Linked DNA regions of Homo sapiens. The protein of the gene in region 2 interacts with the protein of the main gene of each other region in a biochemical or structural test. Each region holds a gene or a part of one and is shown on either strand. Other genes may lie near its edges.

Evidence for each region. The genes of interacting proteins can lie anywhere in the genome.
Region 1: of the proteins of GZMM (region 2) and DFFA, one has a biochemical effect on the other in vitro, tested with the Homo sapiens proteins (one study listed by BioGRID).

What each region holds. Positions count from the first base shown.
Region 1 is NC_000001.11:10,458,780-10,462,529, reverse strand, and holds part of DFFA (DNA fragmentation factor subunit alpha), read left to right. Parts: exon of another isoform or gene 1-827; coding exon 828-1,040; 3' UTR 1,041-3,750. UniProt on the Homo sapiens protein: Inhibitor of the caspase-activated DNase (DFF40).
Region 2 is NC_000019.10:546,998-550,517, reverse strand, and holds the end of GZMM (granzyme M isoform 1 preproprotein), read right to left. Parts: intron 3,239-3,520; coding exon 3,082-3,238; intron 1,977-3,081; coding exon 1,841-1,976; intron 1,597-1,840; coding exon 1,333-1,596; intron 889-1,332; coding exon 727-888; 3' UTR 596-726; downstream 1-595. UniProt on the Homo sapiens protein: Cleaves peptide substrates after methionine, leucine, and norleucine. Physiological substrates include EZR, alpha-tubulins and the apoptosis inhibitor BIRC5/Survivin. Promotes caspase activation and subsequent apoptosis of target cells.

The sequences.
Region 1 (3,750 bases), on a different chromosome or scaffold from region 2:
TGGCTAAATTTCCTGAAGGTGGAGGACCTTAGAGTTGCTCCAAGTAAACTTTCCAAGGACTTCTTCCTGTTGGTGTTGTAAGAAAAGGCCCATGCTTGTCCGGGCACAGTGGCTTACGCCTGTTAATGCCAGTACTTTGGGAGGCCGAGGCAGGTGGATCACCTGAGGTCAGGAGTTCGAGACCAGCCTGACCAACATGGCGAAACCCCATCTCTACTAAAAATACAAAAATTAGCCTGGCATGGTGGTGGGAGGCTGAAGCAAGAGAATCACTTGAACCCAGGAGGTGGAGGTTGCGTGAGCTAAGATCGCGCCACTGCACTCCAGCCTGGGCGACAAGAGTGAAACTCCGTCTTAAAAAAGCCCATGGCAGGCTGGGCGCGGTGGCTCACGCCTGTAATCCCAGCACTTTGGGAGGCCAAGGTGGGCGGATCACAAGGTCAGGAGATCGAGACCATCCTGGCGAACACGGTGAAACCCCGTCTCTACTAAAAAAAATACAAAAAAATTAGCCAGGCGTGGTCGTGGGCACCTGTAGTCCCAGCTACTCAGGGGGCTGAGGCAGGAGAATGGCGTGAATCCGGGAGGCGGAGCTTGCAGGGAGCCGAGATAGTGTCACTGCACTCCAGCCTGGGTGACAGAGCGAGACTCCGTCTCAAAAAACAAAAAGCCCGTGGCAATTAATGGTAAAGGAAACCCGGCATTTCAGTGTAAAGAGGTAACATAAACGGATACTGCCTCATTGCACTCCCCAAAAGAGAGTCAGGAGAGCAGCAGGAGAGGCGCACAGAAGGCCCAGTTCTCAGGGGTTTTTATTCTTGCTGCAGTTGGTTACCAAGGAAGACCCCAAAGCACTGGCTGTTGCCTTGAACTGGGACATAAAGAAGACGGAGACTGTTCAGGAGGCCTGTGAGCGGGAGCTCGCCCTGCGCCTGCAGCAGACGCAGAGCTTGCATTCTCTCCGGAGCATCTCAGCAAGCAAGGCCTCACCACCTGGTGACCTGCAGAATCCTAAGCGAGCCAGACAGGATCCCACATAGCAGCAGCGGGAAGTGTGCCAAGGAAGCTCTGTGGCGTTGTGTTATTGGTAGACACCCTCAGCCTCATCATTTGACTACCTATGTACTACTCTACCCCCTGCCTTAGAGCACCTTCCAGAGAAGCTATTCCAGGTCTCAACATACGCCGTTCCACCAATTTTTTTTTTAGCCCCACCAGCTTCAGGACTTCTGCCAATTTTGAATGATATAGCTGCACCAACAATATCCCGCCTCCTCTAATTACATATGATGTTCTCTGTTCAAAAGTAATTGGCAGTGATTGGCCAGGCGCAGTGGCTCACGCCTGTAATCCCAGCACTGGGAGGCCGAGGGGGGCGGATCGTGAAGTCAGGAGATCGAGACCATCCTGGCTAACATGGTGAAACCCTGTCTCTACTAAAAATACAAAAAAAATTAGCCAGCCATGGTGGCGGGCGCCTGTAATCCCAGCTACTTGGGAGGCTGAGGCAGGAGAATGGCATGAACCTGGGAGGCAGAGCTTGCAGTGAGCTGAGATTGCGCCACTGCACTCCAGCCTGGGCAACAGAGCGAGACTCCGTCTCAAAAAAAAAAAAAAAAAAAGTAATTGGCAGTGACTATGGGCGCACTGCCTAACATTTAGCCCTGCCCCATATGGAACATGTTAAAAAAAAAAAAAGCCAGGCCGAGCGTGTTGGCTCACGCTTGTAATCCCAGCACTTTGGGAGGCCGAGGCGGGTGGATCACGAGGTCAGGAGATCGAGACCATCCTGGCTAACACAGTGAAACGTGTTTTTACTAAAAGTACAAAAAACTAGCTGGGCGTGGTGGCAGGAGCCTGTAGTCCCAGCTACTCGGGAGGCTGAGGCAGGAGAATTGCTTGAACCGGGGAGGCAGAAGTTGCAGTGAGCCGAGATTATGCCACTGTACTCCAGCCTGGGTGACAGAGTGACACTCTGTCTCAAAAAAAAAAAAAAAAAGGACAGGCACGACAGTGGCTCACACCTTTGATCCCAGCACTTTGGAGGCCGATGCAGGCGGATCACATGAGGTCAGGAGTTCAAGACCAACCTGGCCAATATGGTGAAACCCCGTCTCTACTAAAAATACAAAAATTAGCTGGGCATGATGGCGGGTGCCTGTAATCCCAGCTACTCGGTAGGCAGAGGTTGCAGTGAGCTGAGAGCGCACCACTGCACTCCAGCCTGGGTGACAGAGCTAGACTCCGTATCTCAAGAAAAAAAAAAAGTTTTGTTTTGTTTTTTTGAGACAGAGTCTCACTCTGTCACCTAGTCTGGAGTGCAGTGGCACATTCTCGGCTCACTGCAACCCCCACCTCCCAGGTTCAAGCGATTCTCCTGTTTCAGCCTCCTGAGCAGCTGGGATTACAGGCACGTGCCACCATGCCCGGCTAATTTTTGTATTTTTAGTAGAGACAGGGTTTTGTCACATTGGCCAGGCTGGTCTCAAACTCCTGACCTCAGGTGATCCACCCACCTCAGCCTCCCAAAGTGCTGGGATTACAGGTGTGAGCCACCACCCCTGGCCAGAAAAAAAAGCTTTTAAATAAAGTAATTGTCAGCTTAGGCAACATAGCAAGACCCTGTCTCTACAAAAAAAAAATTTAAGTTAGCCAGGCATGGTGGCACTGACCTATAATCCTAGCTACTCTGGAGGCTAAGGCGAGAGTATCACTTGAGCCCAGGAGCTCAAGGCTGATCATGCCACCATACTCCAGCCTGGATGATAGAGTAAGACCCTACTTTTTTTTTTTTTTTTTTAAAAAGGTAACCATCAAGGGCAATGAAAAGAAATGGTCGTATTTCCAATTCATTATCCTTATTCTGAAGATAGTACGGCAGAATTTTAAGCAGAGATAGTGGTGAAGATGGTGACATTATAGAGTGTTGACTATGGCCACAATCTTGTTTCTCCAGTTAATGAATTTTTTTATGTGTTTGTTTAAAGATACATATTAAGCTTGTAGACCATAGGGACATACGGAGAGTCCATTGCTAATATCTCACTCAGTATTGTGAAATTCTATCTCACCACCGTGAAACTCTTCAGTTTTCTAATTGCTTTATCAGCAGGGGGTATAAAAGGTCATGAAAGCAATTTCCACATGCTGTGGCTCCAGGTCTCTGGGTGTGAAGCAGAGCAAGCCTGGTTTGTCCTCCTCCTGTCTCCACACAGACGGCTTCTGCAGGTTTGGTAATCTACAGTACACTCCTTGCAGGGAAAAGGTGATGAGTCATCATGGACTTATTTGACCACTTTTTATGCATGCTTAGAGGAAAACAGAATACTGTTAAGAGATTCATCTGCTAGTTATTAAGTAAAGAAATATCACAATAGGCCGGGCGCAGTGGCTCACACCTGTAATCCCAGCATTTTGGGAGGCCAAGGTGGGCGGATCACCTGAGGTCAGGAGTTCGAGACCAGCCTAGCCAACATGGTGAAACCCCGTCTCTACTGAAATTATAAAAAATTAGCCGGGTGTAGTGGTACACGCCTGTAGTCCCAGTTACTTGGGAGGCTGAGGCATGAGAATTGCTTGAACCCAGGAAGTGGAGGTGGAGGTGAGCCGAAATTGTGCCACTGTACTCCAGCCTGCAACAGAGTGAGACACTGTCACACAAAAAAGAAAGAAATATCACAATATGTCACAATAGGCCGGGCGCAGTGGCTCACACCTGCAGTCCCAGCACTTTGGGAGGCCAAGGCAGAT
Region 2 (3,520 bases):
CCTGTTTTCGGGGTGCTGGGGTGACTGGGGACGGGCCTGTTTTCGGGGTGCTGGGGTGACATGTCACGGTGGTGGTTGCCCAGCTCTGTGCAGGTACCAAAGGCCCCTGAATCGCAGTTTACAGGGAGACTCATCTGCTATGTGAGTTGTAACTTGATAAAAGCTGTTACTAAAAAAGAAGATCCTGGGATGCTGTTCAAGGCCCAGCCCCAGGAGCCACGCGGGGAGGACGGCCGCCCACCCCTGCCAGCCTGCAGACCCGGCCACCGCTCCAGTCCTGGCCAACGCCGCCCCCTCCTGGGAGAAGCCTTGGGATCCACAACCTCCCTTTTTAAAACAGGGAAGGGCCGGGCGCGGTGGCTCACGCCTGTAATCCCAGCACTTTGGGAGGCCGAGGTGGGCAGATCACAAGGTCAAGAGTTGGAGACCAGCCTGACAAACATGGAGAAACCCCTTCTCTACTAAAAATACCAAAAGTTAGCCTGGCGTGGTGGCGGGCGCCTGTAGACCCAGTTACTCGGGAGGCTGAGGGAAACAGGTTTGTCGGAAGCCCCACAGCCAGCATGGACAGAGGTGGGCTGGGACTCAGGCGGGCTCTGAGCGTTTCTTCATTATGATTTATTGGTCCCTCCCTGTCCCTCCCACCCGTCCTCACCCACCCCACTGCACCCCTGGAGGGGAAGGGTCCTGTGGAGACAGCGAGGGGGTCCCCATCACCCCAGGGCATCAGGCCGATCGGCCGGTGACCTTCCTGATCCAGGACACGTAAGGCGCCACAGCGGTGGCCACGGGAGGCTTGAAGATGTCAGTGCAGACCCTGGAGCTGAAGGACAGGACTCTGGCCAACACCCGGCCTTTGCCACACACCAGGGGCCCGCCCGAGTCACCCTGCAGGGACGACACACCGCAGCTCAGCCTCTGCACCTGCTGAGGGGACGAGGGGAGCAGGGCCCGCCGAGGGGAGCAGGGCCAGGCCTGTTATCCCCAGGCTCAAGGAGACACAGGGGCTGCTCCCGGCCCACGCGTGTCCCCTCCCCATCTCCCGCTGGCCCTGTGAACCCTGCTCCTTCTTCCCCCGCCGGACCGTCTTGGCTGGAGCAGAAGTCACAGCTCTGCCGCTTCCCGGCTGTGTGGTCTTGCGCAGGTTGCTAAACCTGTCTGAGCCTCAGTTTCTGCACCTGAGAAACGGGACCCCTGCCAGTGCTTCCCCGCCCCCCAGCCCCTGACAGGACTCCCCAGAGAACGGGAGAGCCAGGAACCTGCCCGGCGGCTGCCCTGGCCCCGGCCCTCCCGCCAGCCTCATTCCCCCAGCCCCACCCGGGCGCCCCTCACCTTGCAGGGAGCCTGGTCCTTGGAGTCGGCCGCCAGGCAGACCATGCTGGGGGAGAGGCTGCCGTTCCAGAAGCGGCTGTTGTTACACATGCGGGTGTCCAGCACTTGGAGGTCCAGCTCCCGCAGCACCCGGGACAGGCGCCCGCCCTGGTGGGTCAGCCCCCAGCCGGCCATGCTGCACCGAGTCCCTGCTGCCACCACCTGGCGCTTACTGGGCAGGGCCAACGGCCGGATGGTCCGGCTGGGCTTCACTTTCCCGTCCAGCTACGAGTGACAGGAAGGGGCAGGTGAGCAGGGGGAGGGGGTGAGAGTGCGGGGGCGGGGGGCGGCAGCGGGGGGAGGGGTGGCAGTGGGGGGAGGGTGGGCAATGGGGGAGGGGGCAGTAGTGCGGGGGGAGGGGCAGCAGTGCGGGGGGAGGGTCGGCAGCGGGGGGAGGGCGCAGTGGGGGTGAGGGGCACCCGTGGGGGACAGGAGGGTGCCCAGTTCTCCCTGTCCCGTCCCTGCACACCTGAAGCAGCGCGAGGTCGTTCTCCAGGGCAGGGACGGGCTTGTAGCGAGGGTGCTGGATGGCTGCCTTGATGTGGAAGGTGAGACCGGGGCTGTCCAGGGTGTGGAGCCCCAGCACCAGCCTCAGCTGGGCCATCCTGGGGACAGAGGGAATCAGGGTGCTGCGGCCTGGCCCGGCGTGGACGACCCGCCACATGCAGTCCCGGCCCCCACTGTGCCCGTTGTCCATGGCCATCACTCACAGCCGCTGCCCCTCACAGGCCTTGGCTTGGCCAGTCCTTCCCTGTGTCTTTGCAACCCACCTCCTCCAGGAAGCCCTCCCTGCTCTCACCCCTGCCCCAGACTTCTGCCCGGCCCTGGCCCCAGGCAAGGGCTGTGTGTCCAAAAATCCAACCCCAAGCCTACAGCTTCACGAAAACCAGCCCTGGGAATTCCCTTCACTTGGGGCCCCAGGCTCAACCACAGTGATTTGTACAGGGGTTGACACATGCCAATCCTCCTAAGTGTGCCCCAACTTTAGAGAGCCAAGCCCTCTTTCCATGGGACTGAGGAGGGTCAATCTTTCCACCTTGTGAGACAGGCTTCCTGGTAGTGCAGCAGAGCTGGGAGACAGATGGGCTCCACAGCGCCTCCTGTGAGCACCTGGATCAAGCCGCACCTGAAGCCAGGCCTCCTCCTAGACTTTGCAGTTACACAAGCCGGCAGATCCCTTTTTGTTACTTTGACCATCTTGATCTGGGCTCTGTATGACGGACCAGTCCTGAGGTAGGGCAACTCCATGATGGGTCATTTAGCGGCTTCCTGATCCCCGGGAACCAGGTCGATTCCCGAGCCACTCTCGAAGGCCGGCTTCGACCTCCTGGCCACAGGTGGCAAACACCCCCACCTGACCCTCCTTCCTTATAGCAGAAGCCCCCGCCTAAGTTGGGTCCATCAGCAGGTGAATGGACAGACACAATGCACTCTGTCCACACCAGGACTGTGGCTCAGCCGTGAAAGGAGCCAGGCTCTGACCCAGGCTGCGGTGTGGAAGGAGCTGGCCCTGCCAGTGCCTCTTGCAAGGAGTAAACCTTCTCCAGGAGTCCCACAGCCGCAGGTCACTTAAACCTGCCTAAGTCGTCACCGGGAGGGGACGGGGGTCCCACAATGGGCCTAAATCTCCCAGAGCCCACCCCCTGCAGAGAATGGGCGCCGTCGGATGGATTCCCCGGACCCCTGGGGTGGGCAGGGCAGGGTACTCACCGCTGGGCCAGGCAGTGGGCAGCCGTCAGCACCCACTTTGGGTGCACCAGGACACCCCCGCACAGGTGGGAGCCATTTCTCTGCAGTGAGGCCATGTACGGGCGCGAGTGGGGGATCACCTCCCGGCCCCCGATGATCTGGGTCCCAAAGGAGCTGCCTGCCAGGATGGGGGACAAAGAGCCAGGTTGGGGCTACATGCCCCTGCTGCCTGCTGCGACTGTCCTTGCCCAGCTCAGAGGCCCAGGACCCCAAGCAGATGTGCCATCCTAATGAAGTCCCCAGTGTTCCCCGAAACTTTTAGGCTGATACGTGTGGGCTGCCCTTCATCCCTCCCATCCCCCTCTCATCACCCCCATCATGTTCCCCCCAGGCCACCTCCCAATCCCCTCTCCAGGACCTCCCCAGGCCCCACTGGGCCCCACAGCCACAGGAGTCCTTC